Homo sapiens: one gene and its partners. The protein of the gene in region 2 interacts with the protein of the main gene of each other region in a biochemical or structural test. Each region holds a gene or a part of one and is shown on either strand. Other genes may lie near its edges.

Region 1 (7,591 bases), on a different chromosome or scaffold from region 2:
CCCGAAGATACTAGCTATTTAAAAACCGGTCTATGCTATGAATTCTCCTAACTCAAGAAATTCCAGGTTACCAGAGTTATCTTTGTATTACAGAATTAACCTGTACTATCTTAAAATCCCCTGGCCTCCCACTGAAAGTACACAGAAGGCCAACATTTAGAATTTTTTAATCTGCTAGTATTGATCATACTGCTATTAACCATTCTTGGATGTAGCCATTGGGTTTTTCAAGGAGGAAAAAATATATAACTTCCTTGGACAGGATGGTCCTTTATTATGACATAATGTTTTCACTTAGAAAACTTTAGATGGACAAATTCCTGAAAACAGGTTATTCCTTTAGAATTGGATTAAGTTAGAGTTTTAAAGAGTTGGGTTAAGGCTAATGGGATTAAGATAAACTCTTGGGGGGAGATTATTGCTGCCAAGCAGGTTTGGCAGCCAACTTCTCACAGCTCAGCACCAGCACTGGAGGATGCCGGCATTCTGGCATCATTTTGAGTCTCCTGTTAATTGTGACTCTAGAGAGCAGTAAGAGTTTTAATTCCCATGTAAAAGAGTTTACATCTTGCTATTTTTGAAGTAATAGATTTTAGCAAAGAGTATTCTAATTTAAACATTTTATTAAATAATTTAGATGTATGACCTGCCATATTCAGTAAGAACTGAGATTGGAATATTTAATGGTAAGGAAAAGGCACCTGATTGGCCAATGCATTTTTGCTACTTGATGATCATATTTGTGCACTCATGCCTGTTACTAACTGGCCACCCTAACCCTGCCTGCTTGCATCCCTACTAATAGTGCATGCACTGAAGGAGGACTGGCTTTGTTGATGCTTGCTGCAATGATTCGGAATACTAAGTGTGTACCCAGATGTGGAACAGGTGGTCACAGGGCTGTCCTTGTTACTTCTTTAATTTCCATTCTTTTCCATATCAGGCAAGCTTGAGGTATAGTAGGAAGAACACACATTATGGAGTCAGACCTGACTGAGTTAGAATTTCAGCTCTTGGTATAACATAGGCTAGGCACAACCTGGCTGATCTGTAAAGTGGTGACATCTGTCTAAATTGTTGAAGATGAAATAAGAGAAAGTCCAAGATTATTCTGTTAGCCAGTTACAGTTCTTAATATACGCGCAATCTCGGCTCACTGCAAGCTCCGCCTCCCAGGTTCAAGCAATTCTCCTGCCTCAGCCTCCTGAGTACCTGGGATTATAGGCGCCTGCCACCACATCTGGCTATTTTTTTTATTTTTAGTAGAGACGGGGCTTCACCATGTTGGCCAGGCTGGTCTCGAACTCCTGACCTTAGGTGATCCGGCCTCCTCAGCCTCCCAAAGTGCTGGGATTATAGGTGTGAGCCATTGTGCCTGGCCTGCTATTTATCATTTTTATCTAGAAGAAAATAGTTTTAATCAGATTTCTATGTTAGATTCACATATCAGGGTTTTAAAAACTCATACGCCCGGACCCGGCCTTCTAGGACCCAAACACAGGAGACTGGGGGTGGAACCCAGGTATCCATATTTTGATTCTGATGCACCACTTGGTTTTTTGAATCTCACTTCTTTCATGGGTTAAAAAGACAATGCTCTGCAGAAGGAGATAACATATACATTCATATAATTTAGTGAGCCTGAGACTGTCTGTGAGGCGTTAGTCCACTGTACCACAGATAGACCAAATCACTCACAAAGTAGCCATAAGCCTGGACACTTTGCTGGCTAATTTCATAGTGTTTGCTTTTTAAACTCTCACCCTTCTTATGTCATGTAAGTAATGCCTTTTTAAAAATAAGCATGAGCTGGGGCACGGTGGCTCACGCCTGTAATCCCAGCACTTTGGGAGGCTGAGGCGGGTGGATCACTTGAGGTCAGGAGTTCAAGACCAGCCTGGCCAACATGGGGAAACCCCATCTCTACTGAAAATACAAAAAGTTAGCTGGGTGTCGTGGTGGGTGCCTGTAATCCCAGCTACTTGGGAGGCCAAGGCAGGAGAACTGCTTGAACCCAGGAGGTGGAGGTCGCAGTGAGCTGAGATCGTGCCACTACACTCCAGCCTGGGTGACAGAGTGAGACTCTGTCTCAAATAAATAAAAATAAGCATGGATATTAAAACTCTTGAGAAATGGAAATAATAAGAAATCAACTGTAGCTATACAATTGAAAAAGTCTGCCATTTATATTCTACTTTTTTTCTTTTCTCCTCTTCTCTTCTCTTCTCTTCTCTTTTCTTTTCTTTTCTTTTTTTTTTTTCAGACGGAGTCTCACTCTGTTCCCCAGGCTGGAGTGCAGTGGCACGATCTTGGCTCACTGCAAGCTCCGCCTCCTGGGTTCACACCATTCTTCTGCCTCAGCCTCCCGAGTAGCTGGGACTACAGGCGCCCACCACCACGCCCAGCTAATTTTTTGTATTTTTAGTAGAGACAGGGTTTCACCATGTTAGCCAAGATGGTCTCGATCTGCTGACCTTGTGATCTGCCCGTCTCGGCCTCCCAAAGTGCTGGGATTACAGGCGTGAGCCACCACACCCGCCCCTTTTTTTCTTTTAGTTTTTCTAGAAGGCAAGGAGGTACATGAGCATAATTATTTGACATAGACAGATTTGGATCCTTTTATTTCACTTTACATCATATGCTCGTTCTCATGTGATAATGTAATTTTTAGAACCATGTTTTTCAGTGACTACATAATGTTTCATCAACCAGATGTATTATTACTCCTAGTTGGATATTTAAGTGGCTTCTGTTTCTACTTGCAGTTTATTTTTAATAAGTAGATAATCAGAATTGTGTCAAGATAACATCCAGTGAGACTTGAACAGAATCACTCCTGAATAGTTGACTCAGAGTCTCTAATAGCCCTAGAAAACTGACGAGAAATCATCAGTTCCTGATAAAATTACACAATTCTACTTCAACCAAAGAGGATCAAAGCCAGATTGGTTGGACTGTCATTCTTCTGTTTATTTATTTTGTGTATTTTTTGAGACAGAGTCTTGCTCTGTCACCCAGGCTGGAGTGCAGTGGTGCAATCTTGGCACACGGCAACCCCTGCCTTCCTGGTTTAAGCAGTTCTCTTGCCTCAGCCTCCCAAGTAGCTGGGATTATAGGCAGGTGTGGCAACACCTGGCTGATTTTTGTATTTTTAGTAGAGACAGGGTTTTGCCATATTGGCCAGGCTGGTCTCCAACTCATGACTTCAAGTGATCCACTCACTTCTGCCTCCCAAAGTGCTAGGATTACAGGCATGAGCCACCGCACCTGGCCCCATCATTCTTAATCACCCTAACATTTTCCCTCTTTCCCAAAAGAGTTGTGTATATCCTTGGGTGAGGATCCTGAAAGTGAAGACATTATCTGAGGAAATAATGGTTTGGGTCTTAAACACTCTGGTTAGAGCTAAGTTTATATGACAGGTATTACATTGTAAAAAGGAGAAAAAGGTTATTTTAGAAAGACACCTGTTAGAACCTGCTTTTTTTTTTATTTTTTTTTATTTTTGAGACTGAGTCTTACCCCGTTGCTCAGAATGGAATGCAGTGGTGCGATCTCAGCTCACTGTGACCTCCACCTCCCAGGTTCAAGCGATTCTCCTGCCTCAGCCTCCTGAGTAGCTGGGATTACAGGCACTCACTACCGTGCTCGGCTAATTTTTGTATTTTTAGTATAGACGGGGTTTCACCATGTTGGCCAGGCTGGTCTTGAACTCCTGACCTCAGGTGATCTGCCTGCCTCGGCCTCCCAAAGTGCTGGGATTACAGGCATGAGCTACCACACCCAGCCAGAACCTGCTTTCTAAAAGCACCCTAAACCTCTTTGGTTGTGAATTTATATATTCTCTGCCTTCCAAGGGCTGGTCTTTGAGGATATTGCTTGGAACTAAGTTCATACAGTAGATATTTTATTTAAAAAAAAAAAAAACAGAAAAGAGACCTCCAATAAAAGGTTTCTTTTTTGTCTGATTTTTTGCTTTTTTTTAATTTTGAAATATAATACTTGTCATATAAACTTAGCTCCAAGCAGTATGCTCAAAGACCAGCCCTTCTTGGAATGCAAATAATATATAAATTCATAGCCAGAGACGTTTAGAGGTGTTTAAAGAAAACCAGGTTCTTACAAGTGTCTTTCTAAAATAACCTTTATCTCTTTTTTACAACAATCAACCAGAGTGTTTAAGACTCAAACCGTTCACTGGTGAAGGAAGGCATTCCCTGAGACTCTAGGTCTGAGAAGAGGGATGGGTGGTGGAGAGGGGGAGGGAGTTTATTCGCCCTGCAGTTGTGCCTGCACCACTTACTTTCAAGGGCATATTTGGATCTGTTACTTGTCAAAGTGGCTATCAGAATCACCTTGGACTTCTTGAAGGGTGAGTTCACAACCGAGAAAGCACATATTCAAAATTGTTGAAGTAATAAGTAAATCTTCTAGAACCTTACCCTCAGTGATAACATTCCACTTCTAGCTCTTAAATACCCACTTCTGTTTCCTGGATGAGATACTCAGTGCAGGAAGGAACCTGGGTTACATTTGTCAGAGCCCCAAATCTGAGATGAACTGTATCAAGTTCTGCCTTTGGGCTGAGGCTGGTTACTGGAGGTCATCCTCTGTTTCTCTCTTTTTTTTTTTTTTTTTTTTTAAAAAAAAGAGAGACAGGGTCTTGCTCTGTTGCCCAGGCTAGAGTGCAGCGGTGTGATTCCAGTCCACTGCAGCCTTGACCTCCTGGGCTCAAGCGAATCTCCCAAGTAGCTGGAAGGTGGAACTAGAGGCATGCACCACCACACCCGGCTAATTTTTGTGTTTTTCTTATAGAGACGGAGTCTCATGTTGCCTGGGCTGGTCTCGAACTTCTGGGCTCACACCATCATCCCACCACGCCCAGCCTATTTTGTTTTTTTAAATACAATATCTTTTGTATGAACTTAGCTCCAAGCATATGCTCAGAAACCAGCCCTTCTTGGAGTGCAGTTAATATACGAGTTCATAGCCAGAAAGATTTAGAGGTGTTTCAGACAAACCAGGTTCTTACAGGTGTCTTTCTGAAATAACCATTTTCTCCTTTTTACAACAAACCAGAGTGTTTGTAAGACTGAAACAATGATCTTGGATAATGTCTTTGAAGGCCCTCACCCAGGGATTTACAGACTCCTCTGGGGAGGAGGGAAAATGTAATGCGAAGAGCCAGAGTGCAACCAATCTGGCTTTGATCCTCTTTGGTCCACACTGGCTGTGTCACCTTGGGCAAGGAATAGAGCCTCTGAGTCTCCCTTTCTTATTTCTGCTGCCTTAGGATTAGTTAGTGGGGGTTCAGTGAGACGATGTAATAAAGTGTGGGTGTATAGTACAGTCTCTGGTGTAAGTAAGTGCTCTATAGTAATGTCAGCTACTGAGGCTGGGTGTGGTGGCTCATGCTGGTAATCCCAGCACTTTGGGGAGCCGAGGTGGGAGGATTGCTTGAGGCCAGGAGTTCAAGACCAGCCCAGTCAACATGGTGAAACCTTGTCTCTACCAAAAATAAAAAAAATTAGCCAGGCATGGTGGCGTATGCTTGTAGTCCTAGCTACTCGGGAGGCTGAGGTGGGAGGATCAGTTGAGCCCAGGAGGTGGAGGCTGCAGTGAGCTGAGATTGCACGACTGCACTCCAGCCTGGGCAAAAGAGCAAGACCCCATCTCAAAAAAAAAATTTTTTTTTTTAATGTTAGCTACTGTGATGAAGTCTCTTTCTGAAAACTGGTTCTGTACAGGTTGCCGTAATTCTTTCTACTTTTTGTGTGTAAACAAAGTCATTGTTTCTTTCAGGGACTGATTCATGTAGGAATAGAGAGGGGCTGGGGAAACCAGATGGGGCAGGTGGGCGGCAGAGTAAGGGATTTCCTTTATGCCCCAAAACACATTTTTTCCCCTTGAATTAATAATGTGTGTGGATCATAAATAGAAAAATTCAGAGAGGCACAAATCTAAAAATTATGTATATGTGATGTATAAGAAAAAGAGAGCAGCTGTGGAGGGGCTTGGTGGCTGATAGGCGTTAGCTTGCATGTGAATACAGATATTAACAAGTAGAAATCTCATCCGTATACACAGTGCCTTTGCATCATGCATTCCCCGCCAAGTCATGTCGGTTCCATAGTTTCTGGTAAACTCTGGGCTGAGAAGAGACACGGGCTGGTAGCCCCTTCTGTTTTTGGGGGCCAAGATAATGGGGAAAGGATTGCATTTGCAGTGATTTTCTTATACGTCGTCTTCAAGTCACAGCTACTTCTTTGCCTGAGGATGTAAGAATGGAGGATTGGAAAGATGGTTGCTCTAGATGACTCTTCATGCATCCATCCAACCATCCAAGTGTGCAGCTACAAAATTTCTTGAACATCTGCTATTTGCCGGTCACTGTTTTAGGTACTGAGGATACACTGTGAACAAGACAGACACAGTCCCTGCCTTCGTTGACTTCTGTTCTGCTTAGGACAAATCCAAGACAGCCCCTATTCTGTGCATACAGACCACCTTTGGCTGCACCATAGGCTGGTGCAGTTCTGCACAGTGTCATTGGTTTTATAGTTATCACAAGACCTGAATTGTCTGAAATGACATTCAGCACCTGAACTCTTTGACACTTTGGCACCTCCATAAATCTAGAAATTTCTCTGAGTTGTGGTGCATAGGAAACCTTGAGGGACAACCCAGGAGTAACTGTGAGAAAAAGGGTGTCCCAGGGAGTAAATAGATCTCACAGCTCAGAACTGTAGGGACAGGAAGGTGGAAGGGGTAGGAGCTGGAACAAGTCTCCAAGCAGTGAGCTTCCCCAAAGTGCACCAGCGTTTTCAAGCTGTGCCTGCGTAGACGGGAGCAGGTCGAACAGAAATATAGTCAAAACTAGCTCCCGTCAAGGACAGACAGGATGTCATTTTGCACCACAGCAAGTAGGGGAAAGCAGCTCTCAAGCCTAACTGTGAAACGCCCCCACAAACCACCTCCTCCTCCCACTCCCTCACTGCTGCCTGCCATGGCTACCTCTAACGCAGCAAAGCAAAACTACAAAACATCTCTCTTCTCTCTTACACCAGCCCTAAAATACCTAATGAGGCTCTCATAATTTGCCAGAACCCACATCTACGAGAGAAGCCAGCCCTTTTGTCTTAATTAGGATCCCCTTGGTCTGCCCACTTGACCGTGGGCTTCATTGAGGCTGTGCCTGTCTTGTTCAGTGCTGCGTCCTCAGCAGGTAGAATGGTGCCTGGCACCTGGGAGGTGCTCAGTAAATATTTGTTCATGCATAAATGAATCTGAGACCCACTGGCCTCTGGGAAGAGCATAGGAGAGGGGGACAACAGCATGAGGACCATATGTTTGCCATCTTGCTGAAGGAATTTCAGCCAACATAATAAGACATGAAAATGGCATTCGAGGTGTATTAGACAGACAAGGGGATGTTAGTGTTTGCAGGAGACTTGGTCTGCCTCAGTGATGTCAGTCAGCAGTGATTGTGATTCCCCAGGGGACACTCGGCAGCATCTGGAGACATTTTAGTTTAAACTTCCCCAGTGATCTGTGATGTACAGGAGACACTTTCGGTTGTCACACTGGGGGA
Region 2 (8,182 bases):
GTCCTAGGAGTATTTCCAGACAAAGGAAACACTATTATGAGGAAGACACAGCTCTGCCCTCCCCCACATCCTCCAACTCTGCAGCCAGAGTCACTAGTTCAGGCCATAGGATTAGCTCCCCTTGCAATCTGCTGCTGTGTAACAATAAATACTAGGGAGCCCCAGGTACAGGTGAAGTATTCCAAACACTATCATCGATCCTGCATATTAATCCCATCTCTACCAGAGCCAACACACAGTTTCTTCTAAGAAAATCCCTTCAACATGAAGGGACCTCATGTTCAGTAAGCCTCTTTATTTAGATAGCAATGACACTAGCAGGGATTTCAAGGGGCTTCTCTAGTTTAATGCTGAAGGACCAATGTGATGTGACGAGATGTTGTGGCAAGCAGCCTTCTTGGCTTAGGAGGAAAAGAACAGAATCTTCCAACTTCATGCCTGAATAGGAAAAACAATCCTTAGGTGATATTGACTCTGCCCTGGCTGTTCTAAAAGGCTAAAGAGAACAGTGTAATCTTTTCACGCACCTTGCTCCCATCCACACGTTAATACCTGTTTCTGCAGCTTGCAGACTTACTTTTTGCAAAGAGCTGCGAGATGGTTTTTCTGGTGTCCTCTGACCCCTCATATTCCTTCTCTGCAAGCTGCTTGTTGGCAGTCTCTAGACGCTCTGTGAAATTTGGAGACAATCAACAGGGTCTCAAATGTAAACTTTCATGCACATACTATTGGCCCTCTAAATACTGACCTTTGGTAAAACAAGCCTGTTTCTTCTTGTTAAACAGGAATGGGTGACTAACATGAGTTTGCAAATGTGAATCCCAAAATAATACTAGACCATGGCCGGGGAGGAGGAGGTAAGTATTTAATGCTTTCACTCCTCACTGCCAAAACCTAAGTTAAGTGCAGAATTCTAAATTTCAATGAAATTATCCATCCCCAAATATATAAAGATATCTTTCATTAACCAGAAAAAAAAGAGTATCACAGTTATTATAAAGTATTTAAACTCATGTAATGTCAAAGTTGAAAGGGACAACTAGCAGCATGTATTTGGGCCCCCTGACTTTAAAGATAAAATAACCAAAATTCAAAGATAGTAACATCCCTGGCCGGGCACAGTGACTCATGCCTGTAATCCCAGCACTTTGGGAGGCCACGGTGGGTGGATCACCTGAGGTCAGGAGTTTAAGACCAGCATGGCCAACGTGGCAAAACCCCATCTCTACAAATACAAAAATTAGCCAGGCATGGTGGCGCACGCTGGTAATCCCAGCCAGCTACTCAGGAGGCTGAGGCAGGAGAATCACTTGAACCTGGGAGGTGGAGGTTGCAGTGAGCCGAGATTATGCCAGTGCTCTCCAGCCTGGGCGACAGTGCAAGACTCCAACTCAAAGAAAAAAAAAAGAAAAGAAAAAGGAAAAAAAAAAGAAAGTACCATCCCCAAGGTTAGCAGTTTTGAAGGTGCTGAAGGCACTTTAAAGTAGAAATATTTCCCAAAGTCTTCAATATTATCAGGTGAAAGTCAAAAATAAAAGGAGTCAGTCAGTCCTGGAAATAAGAGAGGACATTATACTTCAAGCTTGCAGTCAAAGGGCACGCCTCTGTAAAACCTGTTAAAAAGAAGAGGCAGCACCTATTGTGGGGGTGGGCCAGGTGGGTCCAGGAGTCCCAGCAGGGATCCTGCCTGATTAACACATCAGCTCATTGCTCAGAAGACCAGTGAGGTACATCCACACTTTGATCAATCAAGCTTGGGACTGAGGACTATTGCAGTCACAAAAAATTAGCCTGGCACATGCCCAGCCATTTACTGCCCATACCGGTGGGTTGGACAACCCCAAAGAGCCTAGTTGGATCCTGCTCAGCCCTTCCCTTCACCACCCTGCAGCTGCTTCAGAAGTACAAAGACAAGTCTGTTGGTTCCCTCACCTCTCAGATCCCTGTTGAAATCATGCATCCTCCGAATCTCGCCCTCTAGCTTGTTTCTCATGGCTTTCTCTAGGGCCTCTCTTTTGGAGGATGACTTCACGAGGTTCTCATATGCCTCCGAGACGCGCTGGATTTCTGTCTCCACCTTAACAACAAAAAAAGACAATGGTGGTGATGGTAGGAGGGTGATGGGGAAAATGGTCTGAAAACAAACAGGCAAATCCTCGCTGACAGCTTCTCCCAGGGCTCACAGATGGCCAGGAGGCAAGCATAACACAGTCAGATGACACAAGTTTCAAGAAAGGATCTCCACCTTCAACCATAAGCTTAGTAATTAACTCATGGTGTCATGGTCTTTCCTCGGGTTAAAAAAATAGACAATTTCTGCCTTCAGAGGAGATGGTAAGATAGAATAAATTTTATAAATAGTTATAAAGGATTTTAATTTCTGAAGAAAACTCTTAATTTTGAAAATATTAGTAATAATATATATAGTATGTAGATATTCCAAAGCATTCAAAGGGCTTTCACATGTTGGTTCCAGTCTGCACTGATTATCTGCCTAGACAGGATACCTCTTCTCATTTTAGTAGAGAGAAAAGTCAAATTGCCTCTGAAGATCAACTGTCAGCAGCAGAGACCAACCCTAAAAACCCCAAGCTTCATGAAGTAGTTCAGTTCAATTTAACAAACATTTACCAAGGGCCAAATATTTACACGAACTCTTTAAAGTACTATTGGGGGTGTGTAAATATGAATGAGAACATTCTCACTGCCCTCAGGGAGGTTTCAATCCAATCGAATGAAAGACTATAGGGCAAGATACATCTTTAAGAAAAGTAGAAGTAGTGCCATAAAGTACAGACAAGGAAGAAGTTATTCCTGGTTGGGGAAGTGGGGAGGAGAACAATTTCTGAGAAGAGGTGGCATTTACAGTCAGATCCTGAAAGCTGGGTCAGATTTCAATGAGCAGAGGTGAGGGGAAGGGTATTCTATTCTGAGTAAGCAAATGCATTCCCAGAATGACCAGTCGTTTAATTTGGCTGGACACTGTGGGGTACGCAGAGGGAACCTGGCGAGATATGGCTGCTAAGATAGATTGGAGTCAGATCATAAAATGCTTTTAATGCCAGGCATTTGGACTTTATCCCATAGTCAATGGGAAACCAGTATAGGTTTTTGAACACAAAATCATAATCAGAGTTGTGTTTTATGACACCCCTGCAAATCTCATAAAATGGGGAAAATAAACTCAGAGAGAAAGGGTCTTCCCCTGAATCAGCCACAATCAGGCCGAAAATGAGAAATTAGACTCCAGAGTTTTTCTGTAACTAGTATAGCTCCATTGCACATATAATAGCCACACAGATATTTGCATATAATTTGTATAAGACAAATAAACCCACGGTCTATTAAGCAATTTTCAGATTAAATTGGACTCTGCAACCATTCTGCATTGCTTCTGTGTTTTCCACTATCCTGTTTAACAAAGCTCAGGGTACTTTCAGGGAAGAAATATCAGGCCCCTAATGGGACACTAGGGGAAAGGTAAGGTTGCCAAACCAGTCAGATTCAACCCGCCTCCATCTCCAAAATTCTGCCAGAGACAGGACTGCCTGCAAACAAATAAGGCTTATGCCACAGAAAAGAGCAGACTCAAAAGTGTTTTTCTCTTCACAGATGGCACCAAGATAGCAGCACAGAAGGTGAAAACTGGTGAATGGCATTTAGAGACAAGATCTGCAAGGCCTGCGCCTGATGAAGCTTTTGCATGAAACTCAAGCGCTGGGGAGAGAAAATAAACATTTCCATCTGAAAGAGCAGGCTTGGTGTTGGTCTGCTCTGGGCAGCATTTATAGTTCAAGGCTGTCCGGTTGTGCACAGAATGCAACACCTAGAAGGTAGTCCCTTTCCTCAAGGTGTGCAGACTGCTATTTCAAGATCTTGTACTAATCCTTCCCCTACCCCCTGTGTAGATACTCCATCCTTCAAAAGGGCAAGTCCCACAGCTCTCAATAGGGCCTTCCAGGAAAAGCCATCACAGAAGGATATATCCACTGGTTTGGGCTGGGTGATGGTGGGGGCAGAGAGGAGGGTGGCAGTGGGTTTTCCAGACTTACTCTGTCTACTTATTCCCCTCATGAGCCTCAGGCCTTTTCATTTCCTCCAGCACTACCTGGGATCTACCTTAATTTTCCCCACTTTCCTTTTCCTCTCCTGGTCCACCTTCCCCTCTACTCTACCTCGACACTGGGTCAGCCTCTACTTTCCCAACATTCAAGCTGTTCCAGTTACACTTATTTGAGGCATCTTTTCCCATCTTGGGGAACAAACAACAGCAATCCTATTCTCTGTCCCTCTTCCCTGTCACTGGCTGAACCCACTCCCACACACACAAAAAATCACCATGGATCCTCTGGCAAAAAGGGCCCGTATTAGAGCTGGGTTCATCCTTCAGTGATTGTATCAAAGATGGGCTGGGATCACCATGAAGAGAGAGTTTGGAGAGGGGGTGTCAACTGTTAGCCTAATCAGCCAGACTGGGTTTCTAGTGTATGGATATAATTAATTTATTTCACCAAAGCGATGGGGATAGGGATATAGTTAAAATTTGCGGGTGAAAATACAAAATCAGGGAAAAGCCGGGAAGAAACAATTCTCAGAGCACTCCAACAACCCTCATCCAGATTTAGGAAAACTAAGGGACAGGGAAGCCATTTTCCTATATAAAAATCCTCTGTTTGCCAGGCGCAGTGGCTCACGCCTATAATCCCAGCACTTTGGGAGACCAAGGCGGGCGGATCACCTGAGGTCGGGAGTTCGAGACCAGCCTGGCCAACATGGAGAAACCCCGTCTCTACTAAAAATACAAAATTAGCCAGGCGTGGTGACACATGCCTGTAATCCCAGCTACTCAGGAGGCTGAGGCAGGAGAACTGCTTGAACCCAGGAGGCGGAAGTTGCAGTGAGTGGAGATCGTGCCATTGCACTGCAGGCTAGGTAACAAGAGCGAGACTCCGTCTCAAAAAAAAAAAAAAAGAAAGAAAGAAAAAAAATCATCTGCTGATAATAAGCCCCTGTCTCCTTGAGGCCCCCAGATTTGGTGTCTGTTTACAAATACTCAGCTTCATTCAGGCCTCTGAAATTTTCACTCCTGGTGTTTCCTAAGGACAGAGTTGCTGGACAATACAAGGCATCCTCCTGTCCCTCCCCCACCTTCACCCTCACCTCTCTGAACAGTTCACATTGTAGGGAGACCAAACCACAATAGCTCCACAATGACAAAAGCTGCAAAGAAGCGGCCAAAGGCATAACCCTATTCACCAGCAGCCCCTGGAAGCCAAGAGCTAAGGTTCCTCGCTTGGGGTACTCCAGAGGTAAAGTCCCAATGGGGGTGGGCAGAGAAGAATGTGAACTGGAGATACACTCCTTTTTCTATTTCCTCAGCCTAGGGCTGTCACCTGTCACCCAGCTGTGGTGTTAAGCCCCTCCTGCCCCCCACATACAACAGAGAAAGAGAGCAGATGTTGAATTTGAGCTGCAGGGAGGGACCAAATCAAAGGGTGGGGTGGAGGGATTGTTGAAAGAGAGTTACTATGAGAACTCCCACTAGGAAAAAGTATTCTGAGCCTTTTCCAGAACAAGGCAGGACTGCTCAAACTTTAGCTGGTGAGATTTTTCTAGGAACTACATTTATTTTTATATTTAAGATTCAAATTCATATTTGGGAAAATGTGACCAAGACAATGAGCCTTAAGGTGCCGTCAGATCCTTTACCTATAAAGGCATCACCAGTATTCTTATCAAGAAGTATCACTGCCTTTTGGAATTCTAAAAGAATTAATCACGTTTTCTTTAGGGCTATAGCGTCTGGAAAAACTGCATAAATTTTTTTCTCCTTGTGTAAATGTAAGACGTTACTTCTCCTAGGTAGACAGGTAGAAGGCTTTTTCCAAAGTTTGACTCATATCTAACCTTCAGATATAAAAATCCTGAAGACCTGCCACAAGTAATGCTGGGATTCACAACTGGAGACTTTAATGTGGATATTAAACAAGTCTCACAAATAAAGACTTAGAGACCCTAATATCCCAAAACGGAAGCCTCACCTTCTGCAGTCTTGCCACCTTCTCATAGCATCCTTCCAACTCTTGCCTCAAGTTCCGGTTCTCGTCTGAGAGGATCTCAACCATCTGCTGGGCTCTGGAAACAATGGCAAAAGGGTCTGCTGGCACTGGCTGATAAGAAGCAGAGGATGGCTGAGCCCGAGGCATAGCTGAATAGGCTTCTCCTGGCTGCTGCTGTGGCTGCTGCTGCTGCTGTTGTTGGTGGTGATGGTGATGATGGTGCTGCTGCTGCTGTTGCTGCTGCTGCTGACTCAGGCCAGGTTGGGAGAGACGGTAATGATCCCCCTGGTGAGCCTGATTAGGAAGGAAATGCTGCTGCGGCCTAGGCAGGTGAGCTGAATGGTCTCCCTGGTTTGGGACCAAGGGGTGTCGGGCAGGAGACAATCTAGTGGATGGTGGAGATTGTAGCAAGGGCAAGGACCCCCCAGAGGTCAGAGAAGAAGTAGGGCTGTGAGGCTGCGAGTTCCTGGCTGACAATGGCAATGAGATGTCCTGCGCTGGCCTGTAAAACATGAAGGGCAGGTGCGGGTTAATTTCTCTCCTAAGGCACTGGGGGAGAAGGGCACACAAAAGTGAGATGAGGAGGCTTCTGATGCCCCCAGGACACCTGCAAAATGAAGAGCAGGCAGGGTCTGACTATGGGGAAGTCTAACCCTGCCTGCTCTATCTCTGCAAAGACCACAGCCCTTTTCCAGCCTGACCTTCTGTGCCTCTGCCTGACAAACAGAGGTGTGATCCCATGAGGGTCAGAACCAGACAACTTCCATGGTCACTTTGTGAAAATCGTAGTGATACACACCTGTACACCCGTTTGCTCAAGTCTAAACATTTCAAACGATTCTTCTACAAGGTAATTTTCATCTCATTATTTTAAATTAAACCTTTTCTGACATTATACACGTGGTCCAGCACACATAAAGATCCTAGTTTAGAAACTATGTTCCATTTGCCAGGATGGAAACAACAAACAGCCATAAAAACCACCCCCATCTTGCTATCTGCAACTCCCTTTAGTAATTCATACATTCACAAAAAAAAAGAAAAAAAACTATTCAAGGATTGGTAGATACTTATATTAGAGACACTAAATGATTATTGTTGCTTCCAGTTGTTAACGATTTAATGATTCCCATTAGCAGTAACCATAAAAAGACTTGAAGAGGGTTACAAGCAATGCTAACATACTATTTTTGATGTAATGAATCGCAAAATGTAAGAACTGGAAAGGCCTTAAAAGAAAATTATTTAGTTCAACTCTATCACTGGACAGATGGGGAATGAGGTCCAGAAAGGGGAAGTCATCTGCCAAATATTAGAGTGGTGGTGCCAAGATAGAATCCTTCTTTCCCAATTCCCATTTTCTGGCTTTTTCTACTGCCATAATGCATTGATTTCTGTGCACTGATACTTAGATTTCCAACCTATTGCTCATAGAAAGTTCCAGAAAGAGACCTTTGGTACATTGTTTAATGTGGCTCTCCCATTTTTGTACCTAATTACCAGGTACAAAATGCTAACACCTAAGTATAAATAATTCATACCTAATGACTATTAGCCATTAAGGGAAACAATTAGTATGTGGATGGATCACTTCCACCATCACCACTACCAGGAATAGTATCTGTCAGTGTGCACTGAAGACAAAAAGCTTGTTCATGCCCTAGCTCATGCCCAATTAACCTCATATGCTCCCATGTCCTGTGGACACTTGTTCTACAGTTGATATTTCTCAATCCAGGGAAGACAGATGGCTAAGTGCATGGGATCTGGATCCCAACAGAGGGAGTCTGGAGACCTCTTCTACTGCTCACGAGCTGTGTAACTTGGTGCAAGTTACTTAATCTGCATGAGCCCATTTTATTCTTGAGGTCACAAATAAATTGCAAAAATACTGGGGTCTTCTCATTTTTGGCGGAATAGGAATTACAGTCACTTCTCTACCTCCCAGTGAGATAAGCTGACCTTGTTAGCTTGTTACTTAAAGGATATCCATTTAATCTTTGCAATAAATTGCATAAAATTCATGGTGGAACTGGGACAAATCACCAGGAGCAATTAACTTTTAACTGGCATTCCAGATGCTAAAGCACATTCCTCAGACACACACTCCAGTTACCATTACT
Region 3 (7,591 bases), on a different chromosome or scaffold from region 2:
TGATTTCTTTCAGTAGCAATTTGCATACAAATCTTGCTCATGTTCTAGATTTATAACAAAGTATTTTATGTCAGAGGAGCTATTGTGAATGGTATTGCTTTTAAATTTTAGTTTCCAGTTTTCATTGCTTAAATATAGAAATAGATGGATTTTGGCCGGGCGCAGTGGCTCACGCCTGTAATCCCAGCACTTTGGGAGGCCGAGGTGGGTGGACCACCTGAGGTCAGGAGTTCAAGACCAGCCTGACCAACATGGTAAAACCCAGTCTTTACTAAAAATACAAAATTAACTGGGATGGTGGCGCATGCCTGTAGTCTCAGCTACTCAGGAGACTGAGGCAGGAGGCTCACTTGAACCCAGGAGGCAGAGGTTGCAGTGAGCCAAGATAGCACCATTGCACTCCAGTCTGGGCAACAAGAGTGAAACTCTGTTTCAAAAAAAACAACAACGAAGAAATGGATAGATTTTATGTGTTATTCTTGTACTTTACACCTATAGATTCCCTGGGATTTTCTATATAGAAAATTATATCATTTTTGAATAGGGGAAGTTTTTATTTTTTACTTCTTCCTTTTCTTTTCTTTTCTTTTTTTTTTTTTTTTTTGAGATAGGATCTTACTCTATTACCCAGGCTGGAGTGCAGTGGTATAATCATGGCTCACTGCAGCCTTGACCTCCCCAGGCTCAGGTGATCCTCCCACCTCAGCCTCGTGAGTAGCTGGGACTACAGGTGCACACTGCCATGCTCGGCTAATTTTTCTATTTTTTTTGTAGAGACACGGTTGCGCCATGTTGCCCAGGCTGGTCTCCAATTCTTGGCTCAAGCAATCCACCCGCCTTGGCTTACCAAAGTGCTAGGATTACAGGCATGAGCTACCGCGCCCAGCCCTTTTATTTCTTTTCATTGCTGTATTATGCTGGCTAAGATTCCAGAACATAGAATTGATGAGAATGGACATTCCTGCCTTGTTCTCAACCTTAGGGAGAAAGCATACAATTTTTTTTCTCTCTCTCATACACCTACACACAAATATATTCAAATGAAGACAAAATAAAGATAATTTCAGACATACCTGAGACAAACCTGAGAGAATGCCTTATCAGCAGACCTATACTATAAAAAATCCTAAAAGAAGTTTTAAAATGTAAAACCATTTCTTTTTTTTCCTTTTTTTTTTTTTGAGATAGAGTCTCACTCTGTCGCCCAGGCTGGAGTGCAATGGCGCGATCTCGGCTCACTGCAACCTCTGCCTCCCAGGTTCAAGGAGTTCTCCTGCCTCAGGGCCTCCATATAGCTGGGACTACAGGTACCAGCCACCATGCACGGCTAATTTTTGTATTTTTAGTAGAGACGGGGTTTCACCATGTTGGTCAGGCTGGTCTCGAACTCCCGACTTCAGGTGATCCACCCGCCTCAGCCTCCCAAAGTGCTGGGATTACAGGCATGAGCCACCACACCCGGCTAATGTAAAACCATTTCTATATTAAATGCAATGACTGAAGAAGTTATAGCTTAAGAAAGGTGGAAATCAAAGAAACGATGGAATCTCAGGAAACTCTCAAAGAATAATTTGTTTTTTTTAGACAGAGTTTTGCTCTTATTGCCCAGGCTGGAGTGCAATGGTGTGATCTCAGCTCACTGCAACCTCTGCCTCCTGGGTTCAAGCAATCCCCGTGCCTCAGCCTCCCAAGTAGCTGGGATTACAGGGGCGCGCCACCACACCCAGCTAATATTTGTATTGTTAGTAGAGACAGGGTTTCACCATGTTGGCCAGGCTGGTCTCAAACTCCTGACCTCAGGTGATCCACCTGCCTTGGCCTCCCAAAGTGCTGGGATTATAATAGGTGTGAGCCACCACACCCAGCCAAATTTTTTATTTTTTGAGATGGGATCTCACTCTGTCACCTAGGCTGGAGTGCAGTGGCACAAATATGGCTCACTGCAACGTCTCCTAGGCTCCAGTGACCCTCCAACCTTAGCCTCCCAGGTAGCTAGGACCACAAATATGCATTACCATGCCTGGCTAAGTTTTTTGTATTTTTTGTACAGAGGGGGTTTCACCATGTTGCCCAGGCTGGTCTCAAACTCCTGGGCTCAAGTGATCTGTCTGCCACGACCTTGCAAAGTGTTGGGATTACAGGTGTGAACCACTGCACCCATCCCAGCACTTTGGGAGGCTGAGGTGGGTGGATCACTTGAGCCCAGGAGTTTGAGACCAGCCTGGGCAACATGGCAAAACCCTGTATCTACAAAAAATACAAAAAAAAATGCACCTGCGGTCCCATCTACCCAGGAGGCTGAGATAGGTCATTTGAGCCAGGAGACAGAGGTTGCATGAGAGGAGATCACGCCACTGCATTACACCCTAGGTGAAATGTTTTGACCTTATCTCAAAATAAATAAAGTGCTGGGATTACAGACATGAGCCATCATGTCTGGCCCTCAAAGAATAATTAAGAATGATCAGGAGGCCGAGGCGGGCAGATCACAAGTTCAGGAGATTGAGACCATCCTGGCCAACACGGTGAAACCTCGTCTCTACTAAAAATACAAAAACTAGCTGGGTATGATGGCGCATGCCTGTAATCCCAGCTACTCGGGAGGCTGAGGCACGAGAATTGCTTGAACCCAGGAGGCAGAAGTTGTAGTGAACTGAGATCACGCCACTGCACTCTAGCCTGATGACAGAGCAAGACTCTGTATCAAAAAAAAAAAAAAAAAGAGAGAATGACCAAGAGTTAATTAGACTTCAGAAAGGAGGAAGGGTTATAGAAGAGAGAGATGGAAGTAGGACATTCCAGACAGAGGGAACGGTATGAACAGAGGGCAAATTTCAACTTTAACCCACGGACAATCACTAAAGAGTATTAAATCAGACAGTGTATGGTCAAAATTGTGGGTAACTTCTCATTTAAGTGCCAGAGGTATTTTCAAGTGGGGATATAAACATTTGTTTGTAGTTTGCATAGAAGGAGACAAGGCCAGGAGGCAGTAGGTGACAAAGAGTAAACTGGACTAAATCTTCAAAATGGACTAAAGACCTTTTTGTTTTGTTTTGTTTTGTTTGAGGAGTTTCGCCCTTTCACCCAGGGTGGAGTGCGATGGCAAGATCTTGGCTCACTGCAACCTCCGCCTTCTGAGTTCAAGGGATTTTCCCGCCTCAGCTTCCCAAGTAGCTGGGATTACAGGCGCCTGCCACCACACCCCGCTAATTTTTGTATTTTCAGTAGAGACGGGGTTTCGCCATGTTGGCCAGGCTGATCTCAAACTCCTGACCTCAGGTGATCCACCCGCCTACACCTCCCAAAGTGGTAGGATTACAGGCATGAGCCACCGTGCCTGGCCTAAAGACCTTTTTGAGAATGATATATGATATATGAGTATGCTGTATGAGTGAGGGGGGATACAAGATTATGGGGATATGGCATCATGGAGACTGGAGTTCACGCATGCAATTCTGGTGAGTTCCTATACCCTTACAAGTTCATTCTTTTCCTTTTTTAAATTAAAAAATATTTGTTTGTAGAGATGTGGTCTCACATTGTTGCCAGGCTGATCTTGAACTCCTAGGCTCAAGCAATCCTCCTGCCTCAGCCTCCCAAAGAACTGGCATTATGGGTGTGAGCCACTGCACCCGGCCCAAGTTCATTCTTTAACTCCAGACTAAAATGCTCTACGTACTAATAAATAAAAGTCAATGATGTAGCAACTTTGTGAGAATTCTTTTGATATAGATGCCATACCTTACCTTCATTTGTGTTTCTAATGGTGTTTGTGCCAAGAAAGGAGGTTGTCCCACCAACATTTCAAAAAGAATAACACCAACACTCCACCAATCACACAACTGTGTGTATCCTAAAATAACAAAGTTATTTATAAGCACTTTAAAAATGCTCAGAATACAATAAAAATTAACATTAAATCACCAATTTATACTTTAAAATTAATACTTTTATTATAAGCCTGAAAAATAAGGCATATTCTAGTGTCGTTTTGGCTGGTCTAAAGGTCTACTGAGAATATATATGAAAGAAGTGCTTTACCTGTTCGTAGCAACACTTCAGGTGCAATATAATTGGGAGTCCCAACCAAAGAATGTGCTAGACATCGCTGGTGCTGGCGTGCAGCTCTCCGCTCTAATGGCTTCAGTCTGTCTCCACATCGACAGCTTGAGGGATCCCCCCATTCATTACTGAAATCCATGCTATCTTGCCGTGGATGGTCACCTGCACAACAAAAGAATAAGTAAATAAAGTCAACAATGACAACAGTAAACCTGAAGTCTATTTAATCTTCTGACATCGTGGTTTAGGGTTAACAACATTCTCCCTTGTGACAAACTAAGACACAATGTATGCCAAATCACTGATGGTGTTTATTACCAATTAGAGCCTATTTTCTGAGATGTCAATAGGAAGGATTTTACACTTAAAAAAAATTAGCCTAAGATTTAGTAATTTATGCAATGTTAAATAACAACAATATGAGTCATGGGGAGATTAAGAGTTTGTTATTTAGCCCACTCCCTGTTACTACTCTGGACAAACTTTCAAACAAATTAGATCCATCTTTCATTCAATAAATGACAGTGATAATAAGACAAAGCTCTGGTTACATTCTAGTAGGAAAAGAAACAAAACAATTACACATATAAGGAACAGTGACATACCCTACACAGAGAATCAACACAGGGTGATGTAACAAATGTGACTGGATAGCTACATAAGACTGAATGGCTAGGGAAGACCAGTTAAGAAGGTGACTTCAGCTAAACCGTAAAAAAACAAGAAGGACTCAACCATTTATAAATCAGGATTAGGTATTCCACACAGAAATAACAGCAACAGAGAGAAGACCAGCACAGCTGATAAAGGGGAGAACTGTAGGAAATGGGGCAAGAACTGTAAGAAATGCGGCAGGAATACATGTGGGTTTTGCAAGCAATAGAAATGGTCTGCCTTTTACCTCAAGTAAAGTGAGAAGATATTGCAGAGTTCGAAGCAAGAAGATAACAGTATCTGATTTATGCTTAAAAAAAAAAGTTCTTTATGGGTCATGTGAAGTTTGAAAGGCCTATTTGAAATCCATGTGAAGATAGCCAGGAAGCAGCTGGATAGAGAAATTACGAATTTCAGAGAAAGGCCATTTCTGGAGAGAGAGATTTGGAATTCATTGACATATAGATGGCATGAAGTCACCTAGAATATAAGAAATTAACCTAACTGTAATATTTATCTGGGATGTTTGATTAAAATATGATTTCCCTTTGGGAGGCCAGGGAGGGTGGATCATGAGGTCAAGAGATTGAGACCATCCTGGCCAACATGGTGAAACCCCATCTCTACTAAAAATACAAAAATTAGCTGGGTGTGGTGGAGCACACTTGTAATTCCAGCTACTTGGGAGGCTGAAGCAGGAGAATCGCTTGAGCCCAGGAGATGGAGGTTGCAGTGGGCCGAGATCGCGCCACTGCACTCCAGCCTGGCAACAGACCAAAACTCCGTCTCAAAAAAAAAAAAACAAACAGGCTGGGCGTGGTCGCTCACGCCTGTAATCCCAGCCACTTTGGGAGGCAGAGGCAGGCAAATCATGAGGTCAGAAGATTGAGACCGTCCTGGCTAACACGGTGAAACCTGGTCTCTACTAAAAATCCAAAAAAAAAAAAAAAAAAAAAAAAAAAAAAATAGCCGGGCGTGGTTGCCGGCGGCTGTAGTCCCAACTACTCGGGAAGCTGAGGCAAGAGAATGGCGTGAACCTGGGAGGCAGAGCTAGCAGTGAGCCGAGATTGCGCCACTGCACTCCAGCCTGGGCAACAGAGCGAGACTCCGTCTCAAAAACAAACAAACAAACAAACAAAAAACAACAAAAAGATTTCTATGCCCCAGTGAAGATTTTTGATCAAAAGATGGGAATAGAGCCTAGGAATCATATTTTTAAGAAGCTTTCCAGGTAATAATTCAGTCGAATCTGGGAAGACACTAAATTCCACTATGTCGAACATTAAAGTAGGTTCAATTGTCTCAGTTCTACCCATTTTAATGTCAATCTACTTGTGTTCACAGAAGCACAGGAGGCTAATAATACTTACCTCAGAGAATTGTTGCGAGCATATTAGAATATATGGTTAAGCACCTAGTACATAGTATTTAACAAATGTTAGATTGACTTACACTTCCATTAGCGCTTGGAGGGATCTTGGTGAGGCAGTGTGGTGTAGTAGAAATAACATGGGCCCTGAAATCAGACAAACCTGGGTTCAAAGCCTAGCCCTTACACTTGATTTCTGTCTGACCTTGGGCAAGTTACTTCATCTAACTAGGTCTCAGTTTCTTCATCCTGCCTCACAGTGACATTGTGAGGATAAAATAGGATCAAGGATCATAAAGTGTTTAGGGTTATATAAGTTGTGTAACAGTCATGTAATGAAATCCTAAATAGTAGTGAAAATAAATGTTACAAGCAATAACATGGAGGAACCTCAAACAAGTCAACACAAAGAATATATATAGATTATATTTAAATAAAGGTTAAAGAGTAGGCAAAATGAAATAATATATTATTTAAAGATATACACATTTGTGATAAAAGGATCGATAAAAGTAAAGAACCGATTATAAAGTTCTGAAATAATAATTATCTTTGTGGAGGAGAAAAGGGGAAGTGATTGTTTAAGGGCTTCTAAAGTACTGATAATCTAGTTCTTTAACTGAATGTTGGATATGAGGATTCATTAAAAAATTATTTTAAAAATGTTTTTGGCCAGGCGCAGGGGGCTCACACCTATAATCTCAGCACTTTGGGTGGCTGAGACAGGTGGATCACCTGAGGTCAGGAGTTCGAGATCAGCCTGGCCAACATGGTGAAACCCCATCTCTATTAAAAATACAAAAATTAGCCGGGCGTACTGGCAGGTGCTTATAATCCCAGCTACTCGGGAGGCTGAGGCAGGAGAATCACTTGAACCCAGGAGGGGGATATTGCAGTGAGCCAAGATGGTGCCACTGCACTCCAGCCTGGGCGACAGAGCGAGACTCCATCAAAAAAAAAAAAAAAAAAAAATTGTTTGTCTGGCATATTTTCAAATAAAATGTAAAAGGTGTGACTCAAAAATGTTAATAATATTTAGAAACAATCAAGTCTAGCACATTCTTTCATTTCATAAGTCTAAACAATCAAGTCTAGCACATTCTTTCATTTCATAAGTCTAAGTGCCTAATGGAGTCACCCAAGTTTATCCAACAGAATCAAGACCTGACCCACATCTTCTGGCTCTCATCCAGTGATGATACCATCTTATATTTTACTACATCAATAAATTACATTATTATGAACAAACTAAAATAAATTTTATGAGTTTACTTACCACTCTGATAGTACTTAGAATCGTGTGTCCATCTGAAGCCAGTGCAGAGGCCAAAGTCAGTCAATTTAATATGACCATCACGATCAATCAAAATATTATCAGGTTTAATATCTCTATGAATAAAACCCATTTTATGAACACTTTCAACTGCACAGGTAAGTTCTGCTATGTAGAATCGTGCCAGACTTTCTGGAAAGATGCCCATTCTAATTAATAGGCTCATCATA

What was found. The genes of interacting proteins can lie anywhere in the genome.
Region 1: the proteins of AMOT (region 2) and ARHGAP17 form a complex in vitro, tested with the Homo sapiens proteins (one study listed by IntAct).
Region 3: of the proteins of AMOT (region 2) and LATS1, one has a biochemical effect on the other in vitro, tested with the Homo sapiens proteins (one study listed by BioGRID).

The regions. Positions count from the first base shown.
Region 1 is NC_000016.10:24,920,779-24,928,369, reverse strand, and holds part of ARHGAP17 (rho GTPase-activating protein 17), read left to right. Parts: intron 1-637; coding exon of another isoform or gene 638-645; exon of another isoform or gene 646-686; intron 687-7,591. UniProt on the Homo sapiens protein: Rho GTPase-activating protein involved in the maintenance of tight junction by regulating the activity of CDC42, thereby playing a central role in apical polarity of epithelial cells.
Region 2 is NC_000023.11:112,809,317-112,817,498, forward strand, and holds part of AMOT (angiomotin), read right to left. Parts: intron 6,562-8,182; coding exon 6,042-6,561; intron 2,078-6,041; coding exon 1,933-2,077; intron 671-1,932; coding exon 578-670; intron 1-577.
Region 3 is NC_000006.12:149,672,511-149,680,101, forward strand, and holds part of LATS1 (serine/threonine-protein kinase LATS1), read right to left. Parts: coding exon 7,365-7,591; coding exon of another isoform or gene 7,357-7,364; intron 6,236-7,356; coding exon of another isoform or gene 6,172-6,235; intron 4,228-6,171; coding exon 4,045-4,227; intron 3,857-4,044; coding exon 3,750-3,856; intron 1-3,749. UniProt on the Homo sapiens protein: Negative regulator of YAP1 in the Hippo signaling pathway that plays a pivotal role in organ size control and tumor suppression by restricting proliferation and promoting apoptosis.